4 linked regions of the Homo sapiens genome follow. The protein of the gene in region 3 purifies or fractionates together with the protein of the main gene of each other region. This does not show direct contact. Each region holds a gene or a part of one and is shown on either strand. Other genes may lie near its edges.

Evidence for each region.
Region 1: the proteins of ZFC3H1 (region 3) and SMYD2 purify together in Homo sapiens (affinity purification with mass spectrometry; 2 studies listed by BioGRID and IntAct, with this or other methods). This does not show direct contact.
Region 2: the proteins of ZFC3H1 (region 3) and TBC1D1 purify together in Homo sapiens (affinity purification with mass spectrometry; 2 studies listed by BioGRID and IntAct, with this or other methods). This does not show direct contact.
Region 4: the proteins of ZFC3H1 (region 3) and PPP2R3A purify together in Homo sapiens (affinity purification with mass spectrometry; 2 studies listed by BioGRID and IntAct, with this or other methods). This does not show direct contact.

The regions. Positions count from the first base shown.
Region 1 is NC_000001.11:214,284,097-214,291,410, reverse strand, and holds part of SMYD2 (N-lysine methyltransferase SMYD2), read right to left. Parts: intron 1-7,314. UniProt on the Homo sapiens protein: Protein-lysine N-methyltransferase that methylates both histones and non-histone proteins, including p53/TP53 and RB1. Specifically trimethylates histone H3 'Lys-4' (H3K4me3) in vivo. The activity requires interaction with HSP90alpha.
Region 2 is NC_000004.12:38,012,846-38,020,159, reverse strand, and holds part of TBC1D1 (TBC1 domain family member 1), read right to left. Parts: intron 5,652-7,314; coding exon 5,187-5,651; intron 2,767-5,186; coding exon of another isoform or gene 2,707-2,766; intron 1,807-2,706; coding exon 1,717-1,806; intron 1-1,716. UniProt on the Homo sapiens protein: May act as a GTPase-activating protein for Rab family protein(s). May play a role in the cell cycle and differentiation of various tissues.
Region 3 is NC_000012.12:71,625,712-71,633,025, reverse strand, and holds part of ZFC3H1 (zinc finger C3H1 domain-containing protein), read left to right. Parts: intron 1-8; coding exon 9-140; intron 141-511; coding exon 512-1,054; intron 1,055-1,138; coding exon 1,139-1,248; intron 1,249-2,071; coding exon 2,072-2,203; intron 2,204-2,304; coding exon 2,305-2,426; intron 2,427-3,315; coding exon 3,316-3,417; intron 3,418-3,988; coding exon 3,989-4,108; intron 4,109-5,091; coding exon 5,092-5,275; intron 5,276-6,579; coding exon 6,580-6,766; intron 6,767-7,314. UniProt on the Homo sapiens protein: Subunit of the trimeric poly(A) tail exosome targeting (PAXT) complex, a complex that directs a subset of long and polyadenylated poly(A) RNAs for exosomal degradation. The RNA exosome is fundamental for the degradation of RNA in eukaryotic nuclei.
Region 4 is NC_000003.12:135,960,540-135,968,761, reverse strand, and holds the start of PPP2R3A (serine/threonine-protein phosphatase 2A regulatory subunit B'' subunit alpha), read right to left. Parts: upstream 3,035-8,222; 5' UTR 2,913-3,034; intron 2,765-2,912; exon of another isoform or gene 2,134-2,764; intron 1-2,133. UniProt on the Homo sapiens protein: The B regulatory subunit might modulate substrate selectivity and catalytic activity, and might also direct the localization of the catalytic enzyme to a particular subcellular compartment.

The sequences.
Region 1 (7,314 bases), on a different chromosome or scaffold from region 3:
TCTGTATGCCAAAGGGCCAAACTTCGGGGTATCATTTTCTGAGTCCCAACATGGTTAAACATTCTGGTTAACAGAATGTTCTTCATGACATACCTGGATGACCAGAAGAAAGAAAAAGAACAAATCTTCCTGCCTTTTATACAGCATCTGCTGAAGCCTTACAAAGTTCAAGGAACTGGAGGTAAAATAAAGATGAATAAAAGCTGGAAAATAAGCTCCGTGGTGGTAGGGATTTTTGTTCCTTTTCTTTGGAGTTGTTTTCCAGAACTATAGAACCCACTAAGTGTCCACAAATACAAATGTTTTTGATTGAGTTAAAAAGTAGAATTCCTACCCTTAGGGAGTATACTATTGGCTCATAATTAAATGTGTCTTATTGGTGAGGTTTTAAGAGCATATGAGGCTATCACTGTGAACAGCAACTGTCACTGTACCATGGATTCACGGAATTGACAGAGAAGAGATTTTTCAGGTGGCAAATGAGCAAATGTTTCCTATCCAAACATCACCAGAGTAAGAAAAATCCCCATCTCATCAAAAATATGAGCCAGTACCTACATCCCTGAAGAGTCTTTCTTGGTACTCAGATTAAACAGAACACAGATTTCAACATAACTCCTTCCAAGTGCCAAGACATAAAATCCTTGAGCTTTTTATTTGGCTCTAATAAAAACCTGTATCTTTTTGGACAGCCAGATTATCTTACCACGTCCCTCCCCCAAGATACATTCAGGTCTTCAAGCCCTGTGTGAATTTCACTTCTCTAGGGAGTTGTCCTTGTTTCTCCTCTCCTCCATGGTGACTCCGCGTCCCCTGGGCACCAACACACCCTGAGCATCACAGTGCACTCACTAAGACACAACAGTGTCTTTGTTATTATAGCACGCATTCATTTTTATCTCTAGGGACTATAAACTTGCCAAAGATAAGCACTTATGAATTCTCAGATCCACTTTTTCTATAAAAGCTAACCCAATCCATTTTAATAACATACATACAATATTTCCACTTAGTCATCCGAAACCTTCCACTTCATGTACAAGAGTCGCTAGATTTTATGTTAATAAATTAACACAAGGAGTTCCACGCTATTTTTAAATTTTTGATTGAAAAAGAATCTGAGAGACACAGCTGGATTCTCAGCGAATGTACGGACTAGAAAGATAAGTTGTTTCCTGAACCTTCAAGACTTTTTTGTATTATTTTCCTGCTAAATTGCATATTTCTGTCCTTCAGAGAAGTCTTGAAGAGATCTGATTTCCTTCTGTTCTATTGTGTTGGTGTGAACGCCTTTGCAATTGAATAGGAAGCCGCGGAGGGTGGCAGGAACAAGTCAGCAGAAGTTACACAAAGTGAGGTGTGTGCTTTGTGACTGGTTAGAGCTCTAATGAGGCCAAGGTCATGGGTTCAACCCCTGAAAAGGCAGGTACTTCAGTTAATTCCCTGCCAAAGGACTGCACCCCTAAACTACTGCAGATTTCCTAGAAATCCAAAGAAGTGAAGGTTGGGGATGTGGGTGGGCTAACAATGCAAGTTCCTGAGAGGCAAAGGAGACCTCAAAATGCCCTGCCTCCCTCAAGTGTCAGAACAGGCCACTCATCAGGAGGAAGGGGCCAGTGCAGGGGCCCCTGCCCTGACACAGCCACAGAAAAACGCTGAGTGAGCAGGAGGATCAGAAGAGAGCTCAAGGTCTGAATCTGCCAAGTAAAATCAGGGTGCCTTGTTCTAGGTGTGTCTAGTTCCCTAGTGATCATCAGGACACACATACACATGTATTCAAAGATACGTAACCAAACCCATAGAGGAGCTGTCTGTGAGAAGAGCAGGAAATGAGAGGGAACATTCTGAAAAATCAAATTTGCCTTGCATATACCAGATAAAAGCATGCCTTGAACTCAGAAGTATGATTACCTCAACTACATCTGAGGTCCAAAAAAAGATGTGTGTGGATGGGGGGAGTCAATTTAATTATTCATGACTCCAGGAAGACAAAGCATGCTTTTAATTATTGATTGCTTCCTTCGAGGACAGAAATAAAGTGGCATAAAACAGTAATTATTTCATATTTTTATACTGACAGGGAAAAGAGGAGGGAATATTAACCTAAGTTCAAAGCAGTAAGCCTAAAACACCCAAATACAGTAGAAACTTCCTTTGCAATTCTCTCACTATATCAAATCCTAAAAGAGACAATTTTGCTGTCCTGAATTCTCACCAATTCTGAGTTCTCCCAAAGACCAGGTTCCTGCCAAACTATAGCAGTGAGCCCTGGATCTTCTCAAAGAAATTTAACATATTTTTACAAGAACCTTCTCACAGGTGGTGTGCAACTTGCCTGTTCTACAGGAATACCAACCAGGGGCTGCCTCCTATAGCTGCACCATAAATTCCATTTCCACAACTCAAGAGATTTAACTTCTGCAGAGAGAGATCCTGAAGAATGGATTTGCTTAAGGAAAAAAAAAAAAAAAAGACTATGGGCTGATGCTGCCCTATCACACGGCACAGAAACAAACTCTTTATATGTAGGTATAAAGGCTGAGATGACTAACTCTGGTTTAGTCCTAGCGTAATATTAAAAATATTCCAAGCCTACAAAAGGACCAAAGCCTCATGTTCTTTTTATGTTTTATTACATAATAATTCATACATATAAAAGAATATGTGTAGCTCTTATGCAAATTTCAAAGCATTATAATAAAAACAACATGTTTAAGTCCATATCAGCATAAAATATAGATCTAAGATGGCTGAATCAAACATTTTTTAAAACTTTAAATAATTCTTTAAACAATGCATTCGTTTGTTAAATTGTTGGCCAATTATAAATTCTATTCAATCAAGGAGATATCAGAGACGGATTAAGCCCCCAGTCTCCAGGGAACCACACAGTAGTAATGTAGGGTGAAGTCCCTGGGTGAACCACACAGTAGGTTCAGGCCAAAGGGGGGCACAGGAAGATCACACGAGGAACAGGGAGATTTGGCTCCATCCTTGAAGGTCATGGAGTCCGGCCTTTAAGAGGCACTCAATAAATATTTGACAAAAAAGGTGTGAAATTCAGAGAAACCACTTAACTTCTCTAACACTCAGTTTCTTTCTATGTAAAATGGAATAAGGCCCTGTGTATACCAGCCATCCTTGGAAGGATCAAAATAAGAATGTATCTGGAAATGCTTTATGGGCTGCAAAGAGCAATATGATTTAAAGAAATGCCATTTTATACAGGTTCTTCGAATTTTTTTTGATTGAGAGGATTCTGTGCAATTGCTTCGGGAGGGAAAGGTGTTAGATGGTGGTTTTAACTCACCAGGGTTTGAATTTCACTTCAGGATATCCTGCTGTTATTCTGTCTCTTTCATCTGAAATCGGTTCCAAACGTGCAGCTTGGTCACTGAGCCCCTATAAGCTATAACAGAAATTATGTTCCCCGCATATGAAAAATAACGTGAGTTACTGGCACATTTGAAGTCTTAAAGGATGGCTCCTTGCTGCTGTTGAAACAATTGTGCTGAAAGTAAAAGGCAGAAGGAACCCTGATATCCTTGCAATGTGGAAAATTCTGTTTTCTTCCATTTCTCTCTATAAATATTTGTTTTTTCTTATTAAAAGAATATTAAAGTGCCTAAGACTTTGGAGTGAGAAAAGGCTCTTTTTTGAAGAAGGTTTACCTGTGTAGGTATATTATATTATTTCCATTAGGTTTTGAAAAATACTGAAAACTAATCCCAGACCCCATCATTAATTCTGGGGAACCCAAGGTTGAGAACTGCTGGTTGTGGCTATGGGTCAACAGGCCATCTTTTTTTTTTTTTTTTTTTTTTGAGACATAGTCTAACTCTGTCTCCCAGGCTGGAGTACAGTGGCGCACTCTCAACTCGCCACAACCTCCACCTCCCGGGTTCAAGCGATTCTCCTGCCTCAGCCTCCCAAGTAGCTGGGATTACAGGCGCCCGCCACTATGCCCAGCTAATTTTTGAATTTTTAGTAGAGATGAGGTTTCACCATGTTGGTCAGGCTGGTCTCAAACTCCTGACCTCAGGTAATCCGCCCGCCTCGGCTTCCCAAACTGCTGGGATTACAGGCATGAGCCACCGCGCCCAGCCAATAGGCCAGCTTAATGGTGACTCCACTGGTCAACAATTTCCAGTATTTCCTTCCCAGTGTTCACCCCTCCCCACAACTCCATAAAAACGCCCCTAAAATTATAATATTTTATCACACAATTTAATTAAGTTAGAAACATTTAGCCAGCAGAGTTCATCAAACAAGTATGAGATCAGGCCAGGCGTGGTGGCTCATACCTGTAATCCCAGCACTTTGGGAGGCCAAGGCAGGTGGATCACCTGAGGTCAGGAGTTCAAGACCAGCCTGGCCAACATGGTGAAACACTGTTTCTACTAAAAATACAAAAATTAGCCAGGCATGGTGGTGCATGCCTGTAATCCCAGCTACTCACCAGGCTGAGGCAGGAGAATCACTTGAACAGCGGAGATTGTGCCATTGCACTCTAGCCTGGGTGACAGAGTGAGACTCCATCTCAAAAAAAAAAAAGAAGAGAGATCAGAGTGATTTTGATGGCTCACTATGTGCTAGGGTTGTACTGACTTAGCTTGGTTGGTAGGGTGGGTATTCATACGCTTTTTTTTTTTTTTTTTTTTGAGATGGAGGCTAGAGTGCAGTGGCGTGATCTCAGCTCACTGCAACCTCTGCCTCCTGGGTTCCTAGGTTCAAGCCATTCTCCTGCCTCAGCCTCCCAAGTAGTTGGGACTATACTACACCTGGCTAATTTTTGTATCTTCAGAGGAGACAGGGTTTCACTGTGTTGGCCAGGCTGGTCTCAAACTCCTGACCTCGAGTGATCCATCTGCCTCAGCCTCCCAGAGTGTTGGGATTACAGGTGTGAGCCACCATGCCCAGTCCACACTTTTTTATTTTTTTTAAGAGACAGGGTCTCACTTTGTCTTCCAGGCTGGAGTAAGTGATATGGCTTCCTGCAGCATCAACCTCCTGACTCAAGGGATCTTCCCACCTCAGCCTACCCAAGTGTAGCTAGGACTACAGGCCCAGGCTACCACAGCTGGCTAAACTAAATAAAATTTTTTTTGTAGCGAATGGGGTCTTGCTATGTTGCCCAGGCAGGTCTCAAAATCTTGGCTTCAAGCGATCCTCCCACCTCAGCCTACCAAGTCCTGGGATTAACGGCACTGGCATTAGTACGCACATTTTACAGATAAGGGAACCTGGGAGTTCAGAGAGGTTAAGTGATAACTGGCCTAAAGACAAACCATCAGGAAAGAATGAAACCAGAATTCAAACCCAGTCCACCTGCCACAAAGTCCCTGCTTTGCGGTTTCTACTGAAATAAGGTCATGCACTAACAACATTTTAGTCAATGACAGACCACGTGAACAAAGGTGGTCATAAGACTGTGATACCATATTCTCACTGTGCCTTTTCTATGTTTAGATATGTTTGGATACACAAATACTTACCATTGTGTTACAACTGCCTACAGTATTCAGTACAGTAACATGCTGTACAGGTTTGTAACCTAAGAGCAACAGGCTATACCATACAGCCTAGGTGAGTAGTAGACTCTCTCACGTAGCTTTGTGTAAGTACACTCTAGCATGCTGGCACAAGGACCAAACTGCTTTACTAAGGCAGTTCTTGGAACATATCCCTGTCATTAAGTTATGCATTAATGTACATGGAAACCTTGAAATACTGAAAGGTGGAAAGTGAAAACAGCCATTTCCTTACCTAACATACAGATAGCTGAATTTTGCATTCTTTAATGGCACTTTTTACAGGAAATCTGTTGTATGTATGTTTTAGTCTTACCACCTATTTTATAAAAATACATCTAAAAAAGAAGGGGAACCCCTTTATTAGAGCATGTATTCAATTTTTTTATTCAGAAAACATGATGATTTAAATACATCTGAAGCCATTTCTCCCCCAAAACAACTCTCAAAGCATTCTCAGGAGAGCCAGAGTCATAGCAGTCCTGGGCACAAGGTCCCCTTCTCATGCACAGCTTCAGGCAGCCAGAACCAGGGCTAGTTCAGAGAACTTCAGGAAAACAGCATCAGGATTTCATGGCCCTTAATACTGATTAAGATCAACTAAAAATTATTCTGCCGGTTTGATAAAACAAGAGGAAAGCTAAGATGAATACGCTAGAGAATAAATCTGGGGGACATGAGGAAAAAAAGCCTTTATAACTGCTGAAATAGGACACCTTAATCACAGGGTTTGGCTCAGGCAAACAATTTAATTTTTAAAACAACTAATCTAAGCCAGACATGACCGAAATTCACTGAAACTGGGTTCTAACAGCTCTATTCCAAGGAGGCTAAATGGGCTTTCCTGGTTCCCCCTACACTCAGAACAAACAAAGAAATGTCAATAATCTCATCCTTAAATAACCCATGAGCCAAGAGAACTAAAGATCAAAAGGGAGACTAAAGATCAAAAGATCTGCCTACCTGAAGAATGGCACATAGAATGAATATTTAGATGGAACACTGGGTTAAAGCAGATTTCTCTCCTTCTGAGACAAATCACATTGGGGGTTAAAATATGTCTAGGCCAGGCACGGTGGCTCACGCCTGTAATCCTAGCACTTTGAGAGGCTGAGGTGGGTGGATCACTTGAGGTCAGGAGTTCGAGACCAGCCTGGCCAACATGATGAAACCCTGTCTCTACTAAAAATACAAAAATTAGTCGGAAATCACTTGAACCCGGGAGGCGGAGGTTGCAGTGAGCCAAGATCGTGCCACTGCACTCCAGCCTGGGCAACAGAGTGAGACGAGACTGTTTCAAAAAAAAAAAAAAGTCTAAAACTTAGTTTAAAATACAACATACTTGGCCCGGCGCAGTGGCTCATGCCTGTAATCCCAGCACTTTGGGAGGCCGGGAGTTTGAGACCAGCCTGACCAACATGGAGAAACCCTGTCTCTACTAAAAATACAAAATTAGCCAGGTGTGGTGACGCATTCCTGTAATCCCAGCTACTCGGGAGGCTGAGGCAGAGGAATTGCTTGAACCGGGGAGGTGGAGGTTGTGGTGAGCTGAGATCACGCCACTGCACTCCAGCCTGGGCAACAAGAGCGAAACTCTGTCTCAAAAAAAAAAAAAAAAAAAAAAACCACACCAAAAAATGGTGATAAATGGCCAAAATGTGTATGTGTGCATTTATGTGTGTATGTGTGTATAAAGTGTATCTGAGAAGTCTGATAGGGACAGCTTCCAAGTGGAAAAACTTTATATAATATTATTAGGAGCTGCCTTCTAGCAGTTCAGGCA
Region 2 (7,314 bases), on a different chromosome or scaffold from region 3:
TGATATTTTAAAATTTCAAAAAGTCTAAAAACATCTCAAATAAAGTTGGTTTACTAGAATGTTCCTTTGATTACTCCCACAACAATAAGAAAAATAAGATCTGAAAATTCAAGTTTTAGTGCTCATTTTAGTATTTGTTTGTTGTTTTGTTTGAGACATAGGTATTAAAGAATAAAAACCACTCAAAAAATCAAAGGCAGACCAGAGATTCATGAAGAAACACAACTAAGCACATACACACCCAAAGGTTAAAAAAATATTTAAAATATATTTGTATTCCTAAAATAAGTAGGTAAATACTGAAGTGAACTGGAATAAAGAAAGAGTCAAAAATTACATGCACACAGAGTAGAGGAGCTTTTAAACATATTAGGCCAAGGCTCTACCATGGTATCATAAGAGCTATTTTTAATAAATATTAATATGTAAATGTGTTTTAAAATCATCAGCTATCAGAGGCACCTTAATACAGATAAAACGTCTGCCATAAATATTAATACATCAATGTATTCTGAAAGCATCATCATGCAGAGATGTGAGTGCTGATAGCTTAATGTTCAGGTAATCATATAAACTTGTAAACTACACTCTTTAGGAAATTATAAAGCTATCACACAAAAATGTAAACATTTAACATTCATATTTCAACAGAAATAGCAGCAAATCAGGATTAAAAACTCTATGGGTAATCTCACTTTCAGGCCAAATATTTTCCAATAAATGAGCAATCATTAACATGCTTTGCCATCTCAATTAATCTTCTCCAGTAGCAAGTTAAGCATAAGGCTACCACTTAAGGAAATATGATTTAGCAAAGCTTTTTCTTTGTAAATGGTTCCCTATTCAATCTGTAAAGAACATTCTTTATTTTCACATTTTGCAGAAAAGTCCCTTTTGAATATTTAAGTAGATCACATTATAAATCAACACTGACATTTTCATATTTTATCAATTATGAAAATGAAAAATCCAGAGTTTAAAAAAAAAAGCAAATATAACCTTAAGTGATCTCATATTTGTTAGGAAGATCCTGAGTAAAACTGGCACAGCTAATCTTAATTGATAGATTCTTCCAAAATCCCTCTATGAAACACCTGGAAGATTATCAAGAAAAAAGTTTTCAAGTAGACACTGTACTCTGAGATAAGCACTATCTATATTTGAAGGGAGAATACTGACAATTGGTACCTAAAAAAGTTATAAATTTTTGTAAAGTAGAAATAGATCTAATAAAAAGATATATTTGTGTGAAATGTGTAAATATATATGTCAAAGATAAGCACTATCTATATTTGAAGGGAGAATACTGACAATTGGTACCCAAAAAAGTTACAAATTTTTGTAAAGTAGAAATATATCTAATAAAAAGATATATTTGTGTGAAATGTGTAAATATATATGTGTAATATGCACAAAGACACACACATGTGCATCTGGAAGTCATGACTGTGGATTATTACTACCAATAACTGAGAAAATTAAAAGTAGATCTATTTTGTCCATTACTGTTGCTAAGAGCAAATTTCTTAATTTCAAAATTATATTCATAATTTACCTTAACATACCAAAGCAAAGAAGAAAAGCGAAACACAAATCAAGTACAGTACTTAGAAAACATACACCTTGTAACCTTTAGCATTTGTTACATGATAGATATTATAGAAATTCATTTAAAAATTCCATTGCAATTGAATAAAAAAACCCATCTCCATTTACCTGAGAGCAAAAGGATATCTCCTTAAAATTTTTCTCCAATGCTATTTTTTTGGTGTCAGGACTGATGAGGTAAACTTCAGACTGGCCAATCTTAAAAGACAAACAAAAAAATCTAGCTTTTCAAACTTTCTCATTTCATGACCTATGAAAATAAAGAATAAAAGGGACAAGCTCCTATAAAATTCTGACTCTATCATCGTAGAAATCATTTCAAAGGTCCCCTCTTATCCTCTGGATTTCAGGTCATAAGACACATCTATTAGTGCCTTCACCTAGATAAGACAGCCATCTTCCTTGAGATGAAAGAACCAGATATCCAAAAGTTAGCAATAGGCCTCAAGATCCACACATCCCCCTAAAAACTGAGGTCTCCGCATAAGTGAACCTTCCAGAAAACAGAATCTACTCTTTCAAAGCTTCCAAGATACTTTTGAATGATTTTTACTGACAAGTCTTTTTAAATTATTGTTAAAAGAATCTACCATTTGTTTAGTACATATTACATGTGAGGCATTCACATACACTAGTGACCGGACCTTTTCAAGTTAGAGTATGAGCATCAATTACAATCCTCTTACTGCCTTGGGACATGCTAATAGACATGCATTATAGGAGACTGCTGTGTTGCAATACCCAACCTACTCTGTGTGCACACGCCCCTGCAGGCTGTGAAAGGCTGCCTTTTAGACTCCTCGTCTCTGGAGCGCTAAGCTTCTTGGGTTTCAGTGTGTGTTGGTTTCTACAGCTTTAGTTTCTCCTCAGGACCAAGAAGTCAGTGGTCACATCCTGACGCTGCCATTCTTAACTCCCAGACCCATCTCCTCCTCTAAACTCTTTACGCTTTGATGTAAAATACAAATCAGATACACAAGCTTGTTGGAAACTGGGGTGTAAGTCAAGGGGAATTATACTCTCAATGAGGGGGCCCAAGAAACGTGCATTCTGTTTGGGGCAAGGACTTTGCATTCTGAATTGTTTTTGCACACTTACTGTTTCTGAACTGTATTTCAGCCAGCAGAGAGTGGCAGGTAGCCTTTTACTCTTGTCCTTCTGTGGAGACCAAGGATGATGAAAAACTAATTCATTTTTAACATGCAACATCTTTCTAAACTAGACTGTGTCTCTCTCTAGAGTAGGAGCCAACACAATATCCTCCTTATTTGTAAACAACGAATAAGTATCTATTTGGAGTATGTTTAGTCTCTTTAGAAGTCACTGTCTTTACCTACATAATGAAGATAGTCCTTACTTATTTTTAAAAATAACCTTTGAAAATCTCATAAGGTGAGAGGCTCCAAGGCATTATTACTTAGCTATGGCTGGGTTGTAAAGAGCAAGTCAGAATCCAAAGTTGGGTGGGGCTCCTGAGATCCCTCTCCTTCCCCATGGCATCCAAAGGATTGTACATCCCATTAATTTGACTTTCTGCATGTCTGTCCCTTCCACTCCCACTGCACTTACCACAACCCCACTATCTCTCACCTGGACTACTACAACAGCTTCACTCCCCTCCCCATCCTACTCTTGCCCTCCCCCAAGTATCCTGGCTCTGTAGCCAAAGATATTTCACACTGTGTTTTATAGCATGCAGTGACTGCCCACTCCTTTCAGGATAAAAAACAAAACCCTGACCAAGACCCATAAAGTTGTGCCTGATGAAAACAACTTTCATGGGGCTGCCTCCAGTCCCAGCCCCATCTCTACGCACCATCCTTCCTTGTTTTCAGTGCGGCCATCTGGAATTATTTCTCACCCAACAGCTGTGCTCTAGGCACTACCAACGACAGCAGTGAACAGAGAAATGAAAATCCATGCCCTCTTGAAGCCTATCTTCTTGGGGGCATGTGGGACATAAAATCTTTTACTTGTTTATTTGTAATTGTGTCAAATGGTAAAAATGCCATGGAGAAAAATAAAGCAAAAAAGCAGGAAGTGAGGCTGCTATTGGTCTTACTGATACGATTATTCCTCCATGTCAACATTTCAGCAGAGACCTAAAGGAAGCAAGAGGAGGTAAGACCGTGACAACTCGAGGGAAGAATGCTGAGCAAAGGAGGCAGTCAGGCCTCTGGGATTCTCCAGGCACCAGGCACCATCCCTGCCTTTAGGGCCTTCTCATCTGCTGCTCTGTGAGCCCAGAAGACCTTCCCAGGTGGCCACAATGAAACCTTGTGTTAGGTGAAAATCACTTTCTCAAAGAAGCCTTTCCTGATTACCCTGAGAAATGCTCTCAGGCATGCTGTACTTCTCCTCCACGGCATTTACCACAATTATAATTAGATAATTATTTGTGCACTCAGTTGCCTGTCTCCCTTACTGGAATCTAAATTCCATGTGGGCAGAGAACATACTTGTCTTGTTCACGGCTGCATTTCCAGCATGTGGCAAGGGACGTTAGCACAGCAGTCAAACAGTCAGTACTTATAAATAAATGCAGGGAGCAGCTTTCTCAATGTCACCAAGGAAGTTTTTTTAAAAGATGCAGATCACAAATTAAAGCACAAATCTGACTACTCTTTTCGGTACACTAGATCAATGGTCAAAAGATGAAAACATCAGCCCTATTTACCCTTGGGTGCACCCCCTTGGTTTTAAACCTGCACACATCCACACTGCACTAACCTAGGTAGCTGGTTTTTTACCCCCTGGCCATCTCACCTGTGCCCTGAATTAGACACAAGAAGGAGACTTTATATTTAAGATAATTTTGTTCTCTACAGAACGTCAGTCAGCATTAAGCCAAAGAGAAGGCCAAGGAAGAAACTAGCTCTTCCATTGTCAGAGACCGGCTCGCTGCCGGGACAGCTCCACATCTCATCCGTTCAGACCCAGGGGACTCCCAGGGAGGGCACACCCATTCAGAAGAGCCCAGATCAGCATGGAACCAGGAACCCCACCCACCTGGGACAGCCCCCCATGTTCAGTCCTTTTCTAGCATTTGGCTGTCAATTTAACACTTTTTTTCTAAAAAAAAAAAAAGCAAGCAAGCCATTGGCTAAATTAATATTTCAGTTTGGGTATAAATTTCAAATATAATGTCACTCACAAAGCCACTCTTCCTGATTAGCAAAGGGTAAATGTTTCATAAATAAAAATATTAATAGTAGAGAGGGTGTTTTCCAACTAAAAGATTCTGTTGAAATATATCATCTGAAATTCATATATATTTTTTAAATCTCTCTGCTGGTCTCATTTACACGTTTTCACTGTTCTTTCCACACTGAAAAGGTGTCTTTATAATTACCGGGTGAGATAAAAATTACACATGGGCATGTTTCTCCCTGATGACTGTAAAGGCTTATGGCTAAAGGAAGGAGCTTATCCTAAGAATAGAATTGTTCAGCATGAAAATATATGGATTCACACATAAATCAAAAGCAATTGACTAAGAATCTTCGCTCCATAAAGCAGATTTTCTCTTGAAAGCGTATGGCAGACTGGGGCTGTGCACGAGCTGGGTGATATTTTACCGTGAAGAGCATAGTTCGATTTTCCTCGATATCTGTGGGCTGCACAATATTGTGTCCGCTAATGAGGTGGTTCTCAATGTCGCTCTCCTCGAAGGAGCTGAAGAAGCCGCTGCTTCGGAGGCCCCCATCCTGCAGCTCCTTCCTAAAGGCCAGCGAGCGCAGGCCGGGCTGGGAGAAGGACTTGCGCATGGGCCTGCGCACAGGCTCCTGGCTCCCTGTGGGCGCGGCATGGGGCGGGTTGGGGCGGGGGCTCTCGGACCCCCGGCTGCCGCTGACGTGATTGAACTTCTCGATGCACTCGTCGATCAGGGCCGGCGGAGCCTTCTTGTGCGCCACCGTCACGCGGCCGCAGAAGAGCACCTCGAACTTCTTGGAAAACGTGTCGTCGAACTCGGACGGGCAGTGCAGCTCCTCCTGCCGGGCGATCTTCCCCGCCTGACGGATGGAGCTGATGATCTCAGGCACCTGAGGAGAGAGAGAGGCGTGTTATTTGGAACATGCAGTGTGGCTGGCACTCACGGAATGAATGCACCATGCTCTTTCGGGACGCCCCGCTGGCTACTCCACTGCGGAGCACTGGAGGAGGAGCCCACTGGAGGAGGAGCCCACGGGAGGGGACTAGGAATGTCTTCCCATGGGAGGTGAACACACAGCTTCCACAGAAAAGAGAAGGGGGACGACACTTATGAAGCACCTCTTACCTGCCAAGGGCTGCGCTGGAGGATTTACATGCCCACAGCACCCTGCAAGGTTAAACCACCAGCCCGGGAACACACACAGCCCAACCTAGCAGGCCTTGGATTCAAGCCCAGGCTGGTCCCACTCCAAAGCTAAAGGCCTCCTCTGGAGAAGCTGTCGCCTCCCAGAGAAGTCTGTCTCCAACGTGGTTCACAAAACATGACTCAATTATTCTAGATCTCATGGCAGTATACTTTGGAAAGTCTTCTTTAATAAATGGTGGGATGAAGAAGACAAAGGCTCTGAAATTATCTCATAAATTATTTATTCAAATCCCAGCACCATTATTTCCTTCCATGACAACTCAGTCCTATATTTCCTAGCAGGTGAATAGTGACTAGCAAGTCAACAAAGCTAGGAGGTTTTAATCAAGGACTGAGTAACCCATGACTAATATTATCACAGCAAACAGGCTCACCAGGGATTCTTCACATGGAGACTATAAAGCTTTTGGTTTCTAATGCTGAAAATCATGATTAAAAGAATGTAATAAAAGACCTCATCTGCCACGGTGTTGTCCCTACTGCTACATCCTCTCATCATTAACCTCTGAGAAGGTTCTTCAAAGCAGCATAGACATAAAGATGAATCCGCACGGCAGTGAATGAAACAGCTGTGCAATTGCTCAGATGATGGACAGCCACAACACTAATATTTGTGGCCAGGCATGGATTTAAACAAGGCCAAGGCAGGCATAAATTTAATCTTCAAAAGGGCCTACTTTTTGTTATGACCTAACACCTAAACCAATTTTTTCCATTTTTCTATATAAGGAAAATTCAATTTAAGGCCCAATACCCACAGGCCCTATGTCTTTTTAACAACATTATAGAGAAATTTTAAAAATCCCCCTTCCAATTCAGGTCAAAGATCAACACATACAGTAAAGGAGGTGGTTTTAAATTTTAAAAGTATCCTTATATTCAGTGTTCATGACATAATTCCCAAAACCAATGACTCGAAAGATTTTTCTCTTTGTGACTTCATATCAAATACACCTTAAAGATCTCTCTGTCATAAAGATTATGACTATTCTTTCAAGGTATTTTATCACACAAAGAGTCAAAAGATCTTTAGGAAAGTTTTACATTTTAAATAATTGATACCTGATGAGACCTAAATGATTTTAAAAGCCAAAATTTCAGCCAGGCGCAGTGGCTCATGCCTGTAATCCCAGCACTTTGGGAGGCCAAGGAGGGCAGATCAGGAGGTCAGGAGGTTGAGACCAGCCTGGCCAACATAGTGAAACCCCGTCTCTACTAAAAATACAAAAAATTAGCTGGGCGTGGTGGCAGGTGCCTGTAATCCCAGCTACTTGGGAGGCCGAGGCAGGAGAATTGCTTGAACCTGGGAGGCGGAGGTTGCAGTGAGCCGAGATTGTGCCACTGCA
Region 3 (7,314 bases):
TTTTTCAGATTCACAGAGTTCAACAGCGTGTTACAATTAAGAAAGCTTTGACTCTAAAATATGGAGAAGAGCTTGCTCGGGCAAAGGCAGTGGCCAGTAAAGAAATAGGAAAACGTAAACTGGAACAAGATCGCTTTGGGGTGAGGGTTTTATAGAAATATTTTACTTTTGGAAAGCAGAAAGTTTTTATGATAGTTTTAAGGGTAAGATGTATATATAAAGTAACTCTTTGCTGTAAATTCCAAGAGATTAAGATTAAAGCTTTGTTTTTAAATGACATCCACATTTTTGGATGTCTACTTTATTATTTTGTCTTGACTTTGTTTTTGTCATAAGTCATAGATTAACTAGCAAAACTTTTGGCTACTTATGTTAAACTCTGTTTTATTCTCCATATTGATTTAGTTTTATAATGTTGGCATTGTATGGTGGGGATAGCACAATTATCTTACCAAAAATTGTTTATAAAATCACAGTGATGTAAAATACGTGTATCATTTTTCTCCCTTAGCCAAACAAAATGATGAGACTGGACAGTTCTCCAGTATCAAGTCCAAGAAAGCATTCAGCAGAACTAATTGCTATGGAGAAAAGACGGTTACAAAAGCTAGAATATGAATATGCCCTGAAAATTCAAAAATTAAAAGAAGCCCGTGCCCTTAAAGCAAAGGAACAACAAAATATCTCTCCAGTTGTGGAAGAGGAACCCGAATTTTCTTTACCTCAACCCTCACTTCATGATCTGACACAAGATAAATTAACCCTGGACACTGAAGAAAATGATGTTGATGATGAAATTTTGTCTGGTTCAAGCAGAGAGCGAAGAAGATCTTTTTTAGAATCCAATTATTTTACTAAACCTAACCTTAAGCACACTGATACTGCTAACAAAGAATGCATAAACAAACTTAATAAAAATACTGTAGAAAAACCAGAACTTTTTCTAGGGTTAAAAATTGGTGAATTGCAAAAATTGTATTCAAAAGCTGACAGCCTAAAACAGCTGATTTTAAAAACCACCACAGGCATTACAGAGAAGGTTTTGCATGGTCAGGTAACTGAACATTTCATATTTTCTTTAAAATCTGGAATTCACCCAGCCTTATTTGCCTTACAGAATTATTATTTTCTTTTGCAGGAGATTTCTGTAGATGTGGATTTTGTCACAGCACAAAGTAAAACAATGGAAGTGAAGCCATGTCCTTTTAGACCCTACCATAGTCCTCTTCTAGTTTTTAAGTCCTACAGGTATAAAAGAAAGATTCAATAAGCTTGAATTTCAGGATTTCTGTTTGGTTTTTAATATTTTATCTTGAATATTTGATGATAATGAAAAAGCAATTGAATCATTGCTATTGATAACCAGACTTACCCTTTTAAGGAACATAAAAATTAAGTGTCCTGCCGTTGGGCTCAAACCACACTCTTGGATTTATCAGTTCGTATCAAATTCCAGTTTCTGGCTATTGGTAGAAGTGTGGAGAATTTTGGATTTCTGTTTGTTAGGAATTTTAGGAAAAATAATTGGAATCTTAGAGGTTTTTTTTAATTTTTGATTTTTAATTTTACTGTTATTCAGTCTAAGAAGTGCATTGGCCAGCCTTCATAAAATTTATTTAGACATTTTCATATGATTAACTTTGTGGGTCCCCCATTTAGACTTTTAAAAGTTGTGAGAATGTTAAAGGGTTGCATGTTTTTATCTTAAAATTGTAAAGCACCTTCCAGGTAATATAGACTTTTTCCAGATTTTCTTGTCTTGGCTGGTAATGTGTGTAAGAAATACCGGTATTATATAGTATTTTATTATGTGGTGAGAAACTACTTTTAGAATACAAGGTTTTTTTTCTGTTTAAACTATTTTATGTTCTTGGTATAAAAGCAACTTGTTTCTATCCCTTGATATTCTAGGTCTTTTCTCGAATTAATTTTGGCATTAATTTAATTAGATAAATAGCTCATAAATAGTAAGCATGGAAATTTTAACTTGAGAAAGAAAAACTAAAGTTTTCTTAGTTTTCTGAGGAATGTTTGTTGGGCATAATATACCTGTTCACTCTCTTCACCTTAGATTTAGTCCATATTATCGAACCAAGGAAAAACTTCCCCTGAGCTCAGTATCATACAGTAATATGATTGAACCGGATCAGTGTTTCTGCCGTTTTGATTTAACAGGAACATGTAATGATGATGATTGTCAATGGTGAGTAGTTTTTGTGAACATTTTGTAATTTGAAAAATGGTCTTGTTTGCTTAACTTTGATATGTACATGATTATCTTTTCTGTGTTTTTTTTTATCTTAGGCAGCATATACAAGACTATACACTTAGCCGAAAACAGTTATTCCAGGACATTCTGTCATATAATCTGTCTTTGATTGGTTGTGCAGAGACAAGTACTAATGAAGAAATTACTGCTTCAGCAGGTTTTTAAAGACTTCCTATTCTCTCCCAAATGAAAATTGAATTTAGGCAACTTAAAAATTCTATATTAGTTGTTGACATTGTAAAATACTTACTATAATTCAGTGTATTTACCCATAATACTTTATCTAGATTTGCTGTATCCAGTATAATTACGGTAAAAATTTACTTCCTCTGTTACACTAGCCACATTTCAAGTACCCAATGGCCACATGTGGCAAGTGCATGCCAGTAGGACAGCACAGATTTAAGACATTTCCAACATTTCAGAAAGTTCTTTGGACAGAGCTCATTTAAATATTTAGTTCCATTTATTTAAAAGAAAATATTAAGCTATTTGTATAGAAACTTTACTATTGATTTTAACATAGGAGCCTATTTTTACTTATTGTTTTCAAAAAATAGAGGAAGGCTGGAAATTACGATGGCTGTTGTTTCCAATTCTATAATGAAATAAGACTTGATACACTTGTGAGCAAATATTATTAAGCTTTTTCTCAGATTTGGTGCCAAGTAATAAACCTCAAGCTACAAATCTTTTGGAAGTAAAGAAAATAATAATTACTAAATTTGGTGTTATCACAGCCCAGAGTGATTGTAATGTCACTGAATCTATTTTATCGCTCCCAATTTGGGACTTTAACTTAATTACTTAGTTCATTTTAGGAACTACTTTTTTTTTTTTTTAATCCCAAATGGGGTATATGATGTGGTAGGATTTGCCATAGTAGTTAAGATAATACAGGCTTTGCCCTTTCAAATGCCATAGGTGTTATTGACTAGTACCATATAATCGCCTTTAATTCTTAAACTAGTTCACGTCATACATTTTAATTATCCTAGTCTCTGTAATTGATATTTATCATGAAGATTGCATTGCTCTTATTTCAGAAAAATATGTTGAGAAACTTTTTGGAGTAAACAAAGATCGAATGTCAATGGACCAGATGGCTGTTCTCCTTGTTAGCAATATCAATGAAAGTAAAGGTCATAGTAAGTACATATATAAGTGTGTGTGTGTGTGTGTGTGTGTGTGTGTGTGTGTACTGTATCTCTTTCTGAAAAGGACTTTTTAGTTTCTGTATGACAGAAATTTTGTTGGTATTATGTTCTTAATGTAATACATATCATTCCAGGCTGGGTGCGCTGGCTCACGCCTGTAATCCCAGCACTTTGGGAGGCTGAGGTGGGCTGATCACTTGAGGTTAGGAGTTCGAGACCAGCCTGGCCAACATGGTGAAACCCCGTCTCTACTAAAAATAGAAAAATTAGCCGGGTGGTGGTGGCGTGTGCCTGCAGCCTCAGCTACTTGGGAGGCTGAGGCAGGAAAATCACTTGAACCCGAGAGGCGGAGGTTGCAGTGAGCTGAGATCGCGCCACTGCACTCACTGCACTCCAGCCTGGGTGACAGAGTGAGACTTCCATCTCAAAAAAAAAAAAAAAATACGTATCATTTCTAAGATGGAGTGAATGTAGTTCTTCTCAAATATTATTTGAGTATCCTTCAAAATGTTAAAAAAAAAACTAGTTATATCAATTAACAATCTTCTCCTATCTACTTTAGCTCCTCCATTTACAACCTACAAAGATAAAAGAAAGTGGAAGCCAAAGTTTTGGAGAAAACCTATTTCAGATAATAGCTTCAGTAGTGATGAGGAACAGTCTACAGGACCAATTAAGTATGGTAAGAAGTTATGTAATTTAAGATCCAGAATTATTAAATTGTGGTGTTCCATCTTTATTTAACACTTTGCTAATCCTTTGGTGTATCAGCCTGCCTGGTTAAAAAAAAATTTTTTTTAAAAACGATGCCATTGGGTTTTTAGACAATACAGTTAATTCACTGTGCAGGATTGCCTCTGAAATTGCGGGATATTTGTGTTCATGGCTCCTCTCCAGTAAATGCAAGGAGCACTGCTTAGTTAATAATTATGACTGCTTCAGATATTTCCAAACATACATTAGTTGGTGGGGAAGGTAGCTCCCGTTTGAGAACCACTGCCTAGCCTGTGTCCTCCTTAAGGGCAGGTGTTCTATTTTACTTCATCTTTGAATATGTTTTCTGACATGCAGAAGGCTCAAAAGATGAGAATGAACAAATGATGAATGAACTAATGAACAAAATAATGTATGAATGAGTGCCTGTATGTTAGGCACATTTTACTTTCTAATTTCAAGTTTGCATTATTTGTGAATTAGCAAGTATCCAAGAGATGTATGCTATTATGTACTTATTTACACTAACGTAACACTGTTTTTCTAGTTTAGATATAGTAGAATAATCTTTATAAATTATGACTTTTAATTTCTTAATTATAATTTGCAGTTTAACAAATGTGAATTCATTTGATAATAATGAAAAAGCAGTTGAATCATAGTTACTGTTAAGTGGACTGAAAAGGTAATGTCACTTAGCCTTAAAATAGCAGAGTTCTAATTACTCCTTTTGTTCTGGTGTAATTTTTAGTAGCACCTCTTTCCACTCAGAAGGGTCCTGGTTTGGGTGATAAATTATGTCATAGCTCTACCTTAAAGCTGTGAGCTAGTACATGTCATTAGAATCTTTAGGTTTTTAAGTTACTTTAAAGATGAGACCAATTGTTTTCTTTTTCTTGCATCTGTGGACTAAAGAAAATGTGAAGCTAATAATACTTTTTTTTTAAATAGCTTTCCAGCCAGAGAACCAAATAAATGTTCCAGCTCTGGATACAGTTGTCACTCCAGATGATGTCAGATACTTTACAAATGAGACTGATGACATCGCTAATTTAGAAGCAAGTGTGCTTGAAAATCCTTCTCATGTACAACTTTGGCTCAAGCTTGCGTACAAGTACTTGAATCAAAATGAGGGGTAGGTCAACTTCAAATCTTTGTGTAAACAGTTGCACATTTATATTTTTATGTTTGAGGTTTTTTTACCTATGGTAATCAGTCAGGTTTCTTTCCTAGTATCAATGGAGTCTTTGTTTTTTGACAAAGCCAAAAGCATTTTATTGTTTAAAAGCTATTAGACAAGTTTAAGATTAGATCTTGAGTTTGTGTGCATGGCTCAGTGTATGGGTAATAAATTATACTAAAGTTTTTTACTCCAGTAGGCTCTTATTTCAAAGTAGGATTAGTTAAAACAGTAAATTCTGACTAGTGGAATGGTTGATTGTTTTTTAAAAAAATCATAGTAGTCATAGTTTGTTAATAAAATTATGATAAAATAATGGTGGAACAGGTTAAATTTTGTTAATTTGTAATGGATATTTAAAGCTTATCTGAGAACTTCCAAATTATGGTGAATTTTCTTTCTGTCTCTGTCATATTAAATTATATGTATTTAAATAAGGTAAATGGTAATAACTTATACAACCAATAGTTTGTATTGCAAATGGCATCTTCTAACTTCTTGGTAGTAGAAATAAGCCAAGAATAATCTTTTCATAATTATAACTTTATAGTTACAATAATTCAAGGGTTTTTTTTTTTTACACGTTTCTTTGAAATATTTGACTATCTTAAAGCTTTTAAATAAGGCAGTGCTGCAGAGTGCTAATAAACCCACACATGCCTGGATGTGTTGCTTATTTAACTTTCCTGTGTGTCATTTCCATGTTAATGGGATAAGTTACAGTGTTTTCTTTTCTGACTCATTTACTGAGTGAAGGCCAAAAGAACCATACATTATTTTATGAATAGGATCATGAGAAAGAATTATCTTCTCCAAGAGATAGCAAGCCCTTGACCGTTGAAAAGAACTATTATACTGAAAGCTTTGATATTTTGTACTTGCAGTAGCTGGCCTTGAGAGAGAGTTGTTTAACTTTTCGCATTCCCAAATGGTGTAAATCATAAAAGGTATTGCTGAATATGGACATAAAGCACATTTGAAGTTGATAATCTTAGTGGTTTTATAACACTGTACTTTTATCTGTGGTAAATGCTTACTGAACATTCACTTAAAAAAATTGTTGGGTCTGTGGAAAATCAGAAACTTTTAGGCATGTGATTTAAAATCTGAAATCTAGTACCCCTTTTCATAAGTGATCCTGACTTCTTGGTAAATTCTAGTAGAAAATGGAATTTTAAAATTGACTCATTGGATTAGCCCTATTTAAATTTTCAAGCAGGTTCTAAAAAGCACTTCCACCTTTTCTTTTATATATACAGGGAGTGCTCAGAATCCTTGGATTCTGCTTTAAATGTTCTGGCGCGAGCATTGGAAAATAACAAAGACAATCCAGAAATTTGGTGCCATTACCTCAGATTGTTCTCAAAAAGAGGAACCAAGGACGAGGTGCAGGAAATGTGTGAAACAGCTGTTGAATATGCTCCAGATTATCAAAGCTTTTGGACTGTGAGTAGAAAAGATAACGTACGTGTGTGTGTGTGTGTGTGTGTGTGTGTATAATTATTTGGATCATCTTAAAAATTGATAAGTAGCTTAATAGAGCATATGCTTTATCTGAATATAGACATAATAACCTTACTTTCAGTTTCTAGTAACCACAAAGCCACTTCTGGATCAGAATTTAGACTAAGCAAGAAGAAAATATTTAGTGAAGAGGTGATTTTTTTGTTGTTGTTAACTTTATTGGTAAAGAAAAAATGTAAAATTGTTAAAAATTTCACACTTACCTATTTTTACACAGTTTTAGTTTGGGCAAAGTTAAGTGTAGCTTTTGCAAAACACCTGAAAAAATTGTTTCTTTTAAATTTATCTTAAATTGCCTCTATAAAATTATAATGACTGCCAGGAAACATTTTTGTCTTTTTATTATTTGTTTCCATTGCTTATAGAAATAATCCCAATCTGTAATTCACACTAATATCTAAAATTGCCAAGCTAAAAACATTTGATTGAGAAAAAATGGCCTCTTCCTCTTTCTCCAAGAGAATGAGATG
Region 4 (8,222 bases), on a different chromosome or scaffold from region 3:
ATGTCTACAATGATATACAAAACTAGTATCAGTGGTTATTCCTTTGGAAGACAGGGAAAATGGTAGCTGGGGGAGGGAGCAGAACCCACCAAAAATGCTCTGATTTGCTTGGAGGAGGGCCCAGGCGTCGGTCTTAAGTTCTGGTGGTTCTGATGAGAGTGTTGGACTGAGAACCACTGCTTAGTGGACAGCCTTTGCCTATTTTCCTAGCTTCATTTTGTGTCATCACTCTCCGTGTTCCTGGCTTCTGGGTTCCCAAAAGCGGCCCTGTTCCTTTCTTCCTCAAGGTATTCACATCTGTTCCTTCTGCCCGGAATATTGTTCCCGTGAGCTTCACCTAGTAACTCCTGTTAATCCTTCACCGTCCACCTCAAAGGTCACTTCCCCATGGAAACTTTCCCCAGTTTCCAAACTACATCAGGACATCTGTTTTATGCACTCAGAGCTGCCTGTACTTCTCCCAGAAATTAACACAATCGTAATGAGATAAATGTATATTTATGCATGTATACATCTGTCACCCTCCTTAGACTATAAGGTCCAGGCATGCAAAGTTGTTTTTACTAATCTATTTCCATACCTAATCTAGTGTCCAGTTGGCAAAACAGGCCTTCAGAAATCTGTTAAATAAATAACTGTTCCCGCCCTCAAGCTTAGTATAGTAAACACCTAAGCAAATGAGGACAATGCTGCGTCACTAGTGTTAAGGCAGCAGTCTGCTCACAACAGTGGTTCTTAACTAAGGGTGATTTTGGTCCTCCTGGGGGACATTTGCGATGTCTGTAAGCATTTTTGATGTTCACAACTGTGTGTGTGGAGTGCTACTGGTATCTATTCCTCAGTAAAGGTTAGAAATGCTGCTAAACATCCTACGCTGCACATGATAGCCCTCCACAACTAGAAATTACCTGGCCTAAAATGTCAACAGAACTACAAATGAGAAACTCTGACTCAGAGGACGATAACACTCAAAAGAGCTGTCAATTGCACTTCTGAGGGTGGTGATTTTTAAATATCTGTTTTCTTTTTGGGGGATGGGGGGTGTCAAGCAAAGCTTCAGGGCAGAGGTGAAGCTTCAGCTGTGTGTTTGAAAGGTAACAGGGGCCAGATCAGTGGGGACTATGTTTGTCAGGAGCAAGGAGGAGTCTCTGAAGAGTTTAAAAGCAAAGTTATGATTTGAACAGGTGCCCCCAAGTACCCTATACTCCAAAATTATTCATTTCCTTTTTTCCTTTCTCGCTGAAACAAAACTTCCATTCTCTCAGAGTAGCTGGTTTCAGCTGAACATTAAGGCCAAATTAATTCAGCCCAAGATAAAGTCAGATAGGCCCTTCACTCTCCAGAATGTTAAGCTACATTTTAAAATATGCAAATACTTATGAGTACAAATAAATCTTTAACTGCTCAATGTTCAGGTTGTCAGTGCATAAAGCTATTTTTGAACTCAACAGCCAGATTGGCCCCAGTAACACTTTCCCAAAGCTTTGTTTTTTAAAAACCTTTTTGATCTGTTTCCCCGTTCTCCTAGAAATCTCCTAGATTTCTGAGCTCCTAGATTGTATAAAAGATCTAAGTTTTTTTCCACAAGTATCTCATGCCATTAAGTTCTTCTGCCAGAGGTGATAAAAGGGCCATTTGGATGCAATAAATGTAAATAAATTGTGTGTGTAAATTAGCAGTGGCTTAGAAAATTTTTAAAAGGCTTTCATGGACTACTGAAAGAAACTGAGATAATTTTTAACATACCACCAAGAAAAAAAAACAACAGTTTTACTACAACACAAGCCGGCTGCCTACTGAACTGGACGCCCATGCTCTGACCTAGTATGGCAATTCTTAGGGTCTAGGCGCTGGGTTCTGTTTACAAGAAACTAAGGCCTGAGACTAAGGAAGAACAAAGAAAAATGCCTGGCACCAAAGGTGTGGGGGATGTTTTGTACATAAATGAAGATTTGAGGAGGAATACTTCCTCAGATGTTGGAAGGAATTACTCTTTTTTTGCTTACGTGTTAAGAATTTAATGTTTTCAGGCCATTTCCTAATTAGAAAATACCTTATAATTTACAAACAATAATTTGTCTTCCCCTACATTTGCTGACCACCAAGACTGGATAAAATTTCCTTAAGCTTTACCAGAGTGGGAGGACTGGGAATAACGGGAGCACAACAGAGTTCGGATGCAACATCAACTCCAAGCCCGGCCAGCTGGTTTCCATCGAGAGGTCCCCCAGGAGAACGCCCCTCCGCGGCGGCGGCGGCCAGGTCGGCGCGGGAGAGACCCACCGAGGCGCTCCAGCGCGGCCGCGGTGCAGGACCAGGGGCCGCCCGGCCTCCGTTTACCTTTGTTTCAGGTACCCCGGCTCCTGGCGGGCCGGGAATCCCGTCCGCGGCCCGGAGCTGGTGACACATCCTTCTTTGGCCAAGTCGGGCCGAGGTTGGGCAGGGGGCGGGGAAGGAAAAGAAAGCCTCAGCGCCTAACGACGTGACTCTCAGTTCTTCCAAAACGCTGGCATTTGTTTCTCTGCCAGGCTTTCCTGTTAACAAGTTCCCGAGGGCTGTGCGGGCGAACTGGCCCAGGAGCCCTGAAAAGTGGGAGGGCCCAGGCCGCCCCCGCCTACCCTCCTCCGCGGGCGCCCCTGGGGCAGGCAATTTCCACACCTCCCTGGTGCCGTGTCCCGGGACCGGCCGGCCGCGCCGAGGCAACGCACCGCACCGCACCGCACCGACTGGAATTCCGACTTCCACAGCCCAATCAGCTCCGTGTGGCCCCTCTGGCCAGGCCGGTCCCCGCCCCCAGGTCCCGGCCCCGCCCGCCCCGGCCTCCGCGCGCCGCCCCGAGCCTCGCCACCCCCTCGGGCCGGGACGAGGGAGCTGAAGGCTCCAGGCCGTGCGGCCAGTGTTCCTTTGCCTACCTCGTTGCCCGCGGCTCCTCCTCCGGCGGCTCAGCTCGCGGGCAGCGCTTGCCTCCAAGCCTCCCCGCGGCGCGGACTCTCGGGCTACGAATGCGGCGCGTGAAGAGCGGAGGCCCGAGCGCGCCCCGCCCAGCCACCCGCAGGCCCCTACCTCCTTCTCCTCCTCCTCCTCCTCCTCCTCGGCCCCACCCTCGGCGGCCGGCCCGCCCGGAGCCCCGCCCACGCGCCAGGCCCCGCCCACTCTCCGGCCCCGCCCCCAGCCTACGCCCCGCCCCTCTGGCCAAGGCAGGAAGGGGGCCTCCAGGGGCGCCGCGAGAGCCGCTGTGGCCTCGGCGAGGGCAGTCTCCTGTATGGCGGCGCCGCGGGGATGCGATTCGTGGTGGTCGCTGCTGTTTGACAGATTCGAGTCTCTTGCTCGGATTTATTACTGTTATTGTCATCGTCAATATTGTCATCGTTGTTATTGTTATCGTCATTAGTTGTGTTGCCCTCTTCAAGGGGCCTTCAAGGAGGCCCCTTGAGGGCAGCGCGCTGCTGGCCAGACATTCCCTGGCGCTCCTGTCTTCCCACAGTCCTGCACCTGCGCCACATTTCACTCAGCCCAAGAAGTTGTGTGAATTTTAAAAGAAGTGATACTTATTTTTAACTGTTATTGTTAACTGTTACTGTTAAATAAAACACAAATATAGACAGCCATATAAAACCAATGTACAGCTTAATGGATTATTCCGATACACACACCCTTATAACCACTCGCCAGATTTATTAATAACACCGTGTAATATGGTCTGCTCTGAAACAGAACCTCATTAATAGCTGGAAGGACATAGCCTGGAAGGGCCTCCCAAAATTGCCCTCCTTCTAACTGCCACAGTACTCAAATGTGACAGGTCCATAATCATGCCCTCTCCAAGAATATATTTGTAAAATGGAAATTTCTCCAGAATTAGGAACCTCCAATTGAGTATCTTCGTAAAAATCTTGATAAAATGATAAATCTATAAATATATAAGCATATAAATAACAATAAATAAGTCAATCAGTTGGGTTGAATACCATGAGTAAGGAGCATGGGGGTGGGGGATGGGAGGTATGTAAAGACTTAAAAGGATTAGGTGGGCTGTGAGGACAGGTCCTGGGCACCTGGGTTGTTCTCACTGTCTCCCCAGCACCTAGCATAGCACCAAGCATATACTAGGTGCCATATGTGTGTGTGTATATATGTGCATTGTACATATATGCACATATATGTGTGTGTGTGTGTATAGCACAAGGAAAGAAAAAATTATGTAAGATAACCCCAAACAAGCTTTACATACTGAAATTTCACCCAAGGTCAATCCTCCCAGTAGCTAAAGTGTGCTCTGTGAGATGCCTTGATGCCCTAGAGAGAAAGAGACCATTTTACTTTCAACTTTCTACTGCTTTTCCATTTCAAAAGCCCTTTCACATGCATATGGTATCTTATTTGAGACTGAGAGCAACTCTGTGAAAAATGCAGGGCAGGATAGGACTCTGCAAAGGTCACAGTGCAATGCATATCAGTAAGAAGGAAAAGTACACAATGTACCATAAAACAATGTTAAAACTGCTGACCCTGGCAACCTGGATTCTTGGTTTGTCTCAACAGTTTTATTGCCAATGTTTTTACATTAGGGCTCCTTTGGCCCTTTTGCCATGCATTTATACACATTATAACTTGAATGTATAAAGGACACAATACGTGACTGGAAATTTGATTCAATACAATAGAGTTAGTCTCTCTGTCATGAGGACCATGGTGAATTGGGGCTAGAGAGTTGCCAATTCACCACAATGTATTGAGTACTCAGACTGTACTAGGTGGTAGGAATACAAATGATATAAAATAAAGAAGATACAGGGGCTGGGCGTGGTGGCTCACGCTTGAAATCCCAGCACTTTGGGAGGCCAAGGAGGGTGGATCACCTGAGGCCAGGAGTTTGAGACCAGCCTGGTAAACATGGTGAAAACCCATCTCTACTAAAAATACAAAAATTAGCCAGGCGTGGTGGCACGCGTCTGTAATCCCAGCTACTCAGAAGGCTGAGGCGGGAGAATCACTTGAACCCGGGAGGTGGAGGTTGCAGTGAGCCGAGATCTCTCCATTGCACTCCAGCCTGGGTGATCAGAGTGAAACTCTGTCAATCTTTGTTCTCAAGGAGCTTATGGCCAAGTAAGGGAGAAAGATTTGAAAATAAATGTTTAAATTACATGACGGTAGGGGAGCAGTCATGAGCACAATTAATTCTATGAGGTATAGGAAGAGAGTAGGGCAAGTCTTATTAGACAAGAAAACATCTGAAATTTTTTTTAGTATAAAAATATCAAATATTGAAAACAGAGACAGAATAATATAATTAACTACTATGCACCCATTACTTGGCTTCAACAATTATCCCATGACCAATTTGTTCCATCTGTACCCTCACCTTTTCTTTCCCTCCTTGGATTATTTTAAGGCAAATCACATGGAGCATTATTATTTCATCCATAAATATTTCACTATGCATCTCTAAATGATAAGGTCTATTTTTAAAAACAACCACAAAATCATTAAATTGTCTTTTAAAGTAATAATTTATTAACATCTAGACAGTGTTCAAAATTTCCCAATTTTCTCATAAATGTTTCATGTAGTTTACTTCTTCCAGTCATGATCCAAACAAGTTCCTCACAATGCATTTGGTTAAAATGTCTTACACCTTTTTCTTTCCTTGTACTTTTATATTGAAGAAATAGATTGTTATAAGGAGTTTCCCACATTCTGCATTTTGCTGATTGCTGTGATGTTCTTTAACATGTGCCTCTAACCTTGTATTTCCCATAAAGGATAGTTACTAGAGGCTTGATCAATTTAGAAAAGTATAACCCATAATGAATAGAAAAATCAACAAATCAAAAATAGACCAGAACTATCACAGATGTTAGAATTAGCAGAGAAAGACATTAAAACAATTACTATGGCTGGGCATGGTGGCTCAAACCTGTAATCCCAGCGCTTTGTGGGGCTAATATGGGTGGATTACCCGAGGTCAGGAGTTTGAGACCAGCTTGACCAACATGGTGAAGCCCCGTCTCTACTAAAAAATACAAAAAAATTAGCCGGCCATGGTGGCAGGCGCCTATAATCCCAGCTACTTGGGAGGCTAAGGCAGAAGAATCGCTTGAACCCGGGAGGCAGAGGTTGTGGTGAGCCGAGATCGTGCCACTGCACTCCAGCCTGGGCAACAGAGTGGCTCCATCTCAAACAAAAACAAAAACAAACAAACAAACAAACAAAACCACAATTACTATAACTATATTCCAAATGCCAAAAAAGTTAAGTACATATTAAAAAGGGAAGATGTAAAAAAGACACAAATTGTATTTCTATAGTTGAAGACTATAATGTCTAGAATAAAAATACATTAGATTGGATTAATGGCAAATTAGACATTACCAAAGAAAAGATTAGTCACATCAATAGAAATTATCCAAAATGAAACACACAGAAAGAGAAATGTTAATGAAAAGAGCATCAGTGAGCTAAAGAGCAACTACAAGTGGCCTAATATGTGGAATCTCCAAAGGAGAGGAGTGAAGACAAAAAGTATCTGAAGAAATACTAGCCAAAAGTTTCCAAAATTTATGAAAACTATATACTCACAGATCTAAGAAGTGCAACAGACTTCCAATTTCCAGTACAGCAGACGATAGACTTACATCCAACCATATCAATAGTCATATTAAATGTGAGACTTCTGGTTCCAAAATGGCAGCATAGAAGCAAGCCGGCTCCCCCTTTTCCCCAGAAAAAGAAGACCAAACCCAAATACACAACACCAAGATTACCATCAATAATATCCCAAAACTGAAATATGAGGATGAGACAGTTTGCAGGGTCACAAAGAAGTGAAAAAGCTCCAAGCAGATGGTAAGAGAATGACTTCCATGTTCAGGATGCCCCTCCCCCTATTCTGTCCAGCACCAAGCATTCAAAAAGTTTCCTCCTAAATCAGTTTATACACTGGAAAAAGTGAGATCACGGTGGACAACCAGCTCCCCACCATCTTGGGATCCTTGGCAGGAGACTTGTCCCTGTCTTAGCCCACAGAAACATTGCAAGTCCCTTAAGGGAGAAATATCCCGGAGGATGGGCAAAGGCAAATCGAGAGGCAGAACTACCATCCCCAGAACTGGAAACTGCTCTGTAACTGAGCCAAAGGAGACATTAAATCAGAGTGTCTGTTCAGCAGCAACATGATGTAGGAGGTACATTCTGCAGATACTTTGGGCACAAACCCCTAGCCAGCCTTCCCACATTGCTGGGATATCCCAGGATACCTTCCATTTACTAGAGCTGAGGTGGACCTGGGCTTAAGACACCACCTAGAGCTGAAAAGGAGGCAGAAATGTAGCAGTGAAGAATCTTTAAGCAAATATATTCAATAAAACCCAAAACAAGTCAGACAGAGAAGACTGGAATAAACTACCCTTTAGTGCAAAGACATGGATATACATCACAAGAAACAATAGCAAACAGGGAACCACAAACTCCCCAAATGGGCAAAGCAAGGGACCAGTAACTGACTTTAATGAGATGGCAATATGTGACCTCTATGACCAATAGTTCAAAACAGCAATTTTGGCTGGGCATGGTGGCTCATGCCTATAATCTCAGCACATTGTGAGGCTGAAGCAAGAGGTTCACTTGAGGCCAGGAGTTTGAGACCAGCCTGGGCAACATAGCAAGATTCCATCTCCACAAATAAAAAATTAAAAAACCAATAGCTGGGTATAATGGTGCACATCTCCAGTTCCAGCTACTCAGGAGGCTGGGGTGGGAGGATCACTTGAGTCCAGGAGTTCGAGGCTGCAGTGAACTATGCTGGCACCACTGCACTCCAGCCTGGGTGACAGAGCGAGACCCTGTGTCAAAAATAAAAAAAATATAAAAAAGCAAAAATAGAAAAAAATCCTCCAAAATAGCACTTTTAAGGAAACTCAGTGATCTCCAAGATAACACAGAAAACCATTTCAGAAATTTATCAGAGAAATTTAACAAAAATATTGAAGTAATTAAAACAATCCCATAGATGTTTTGGAAGTGAGAAATACACTTGCTGTACTAAAAATTTCATTAGAGACCCTCAAGAGCAGAACGGATCAAGCAGGGGAAGAATCAGTCAGCTTGAAGACAGGCTATGTGAACATATGCAATCAGAAGAGAAAAAAGAATGAAAATAAATGAAGACCACCTACAAGATACAGAAGTTTACCTCAAAAGACCAAATCTAAAAATTATTGGTG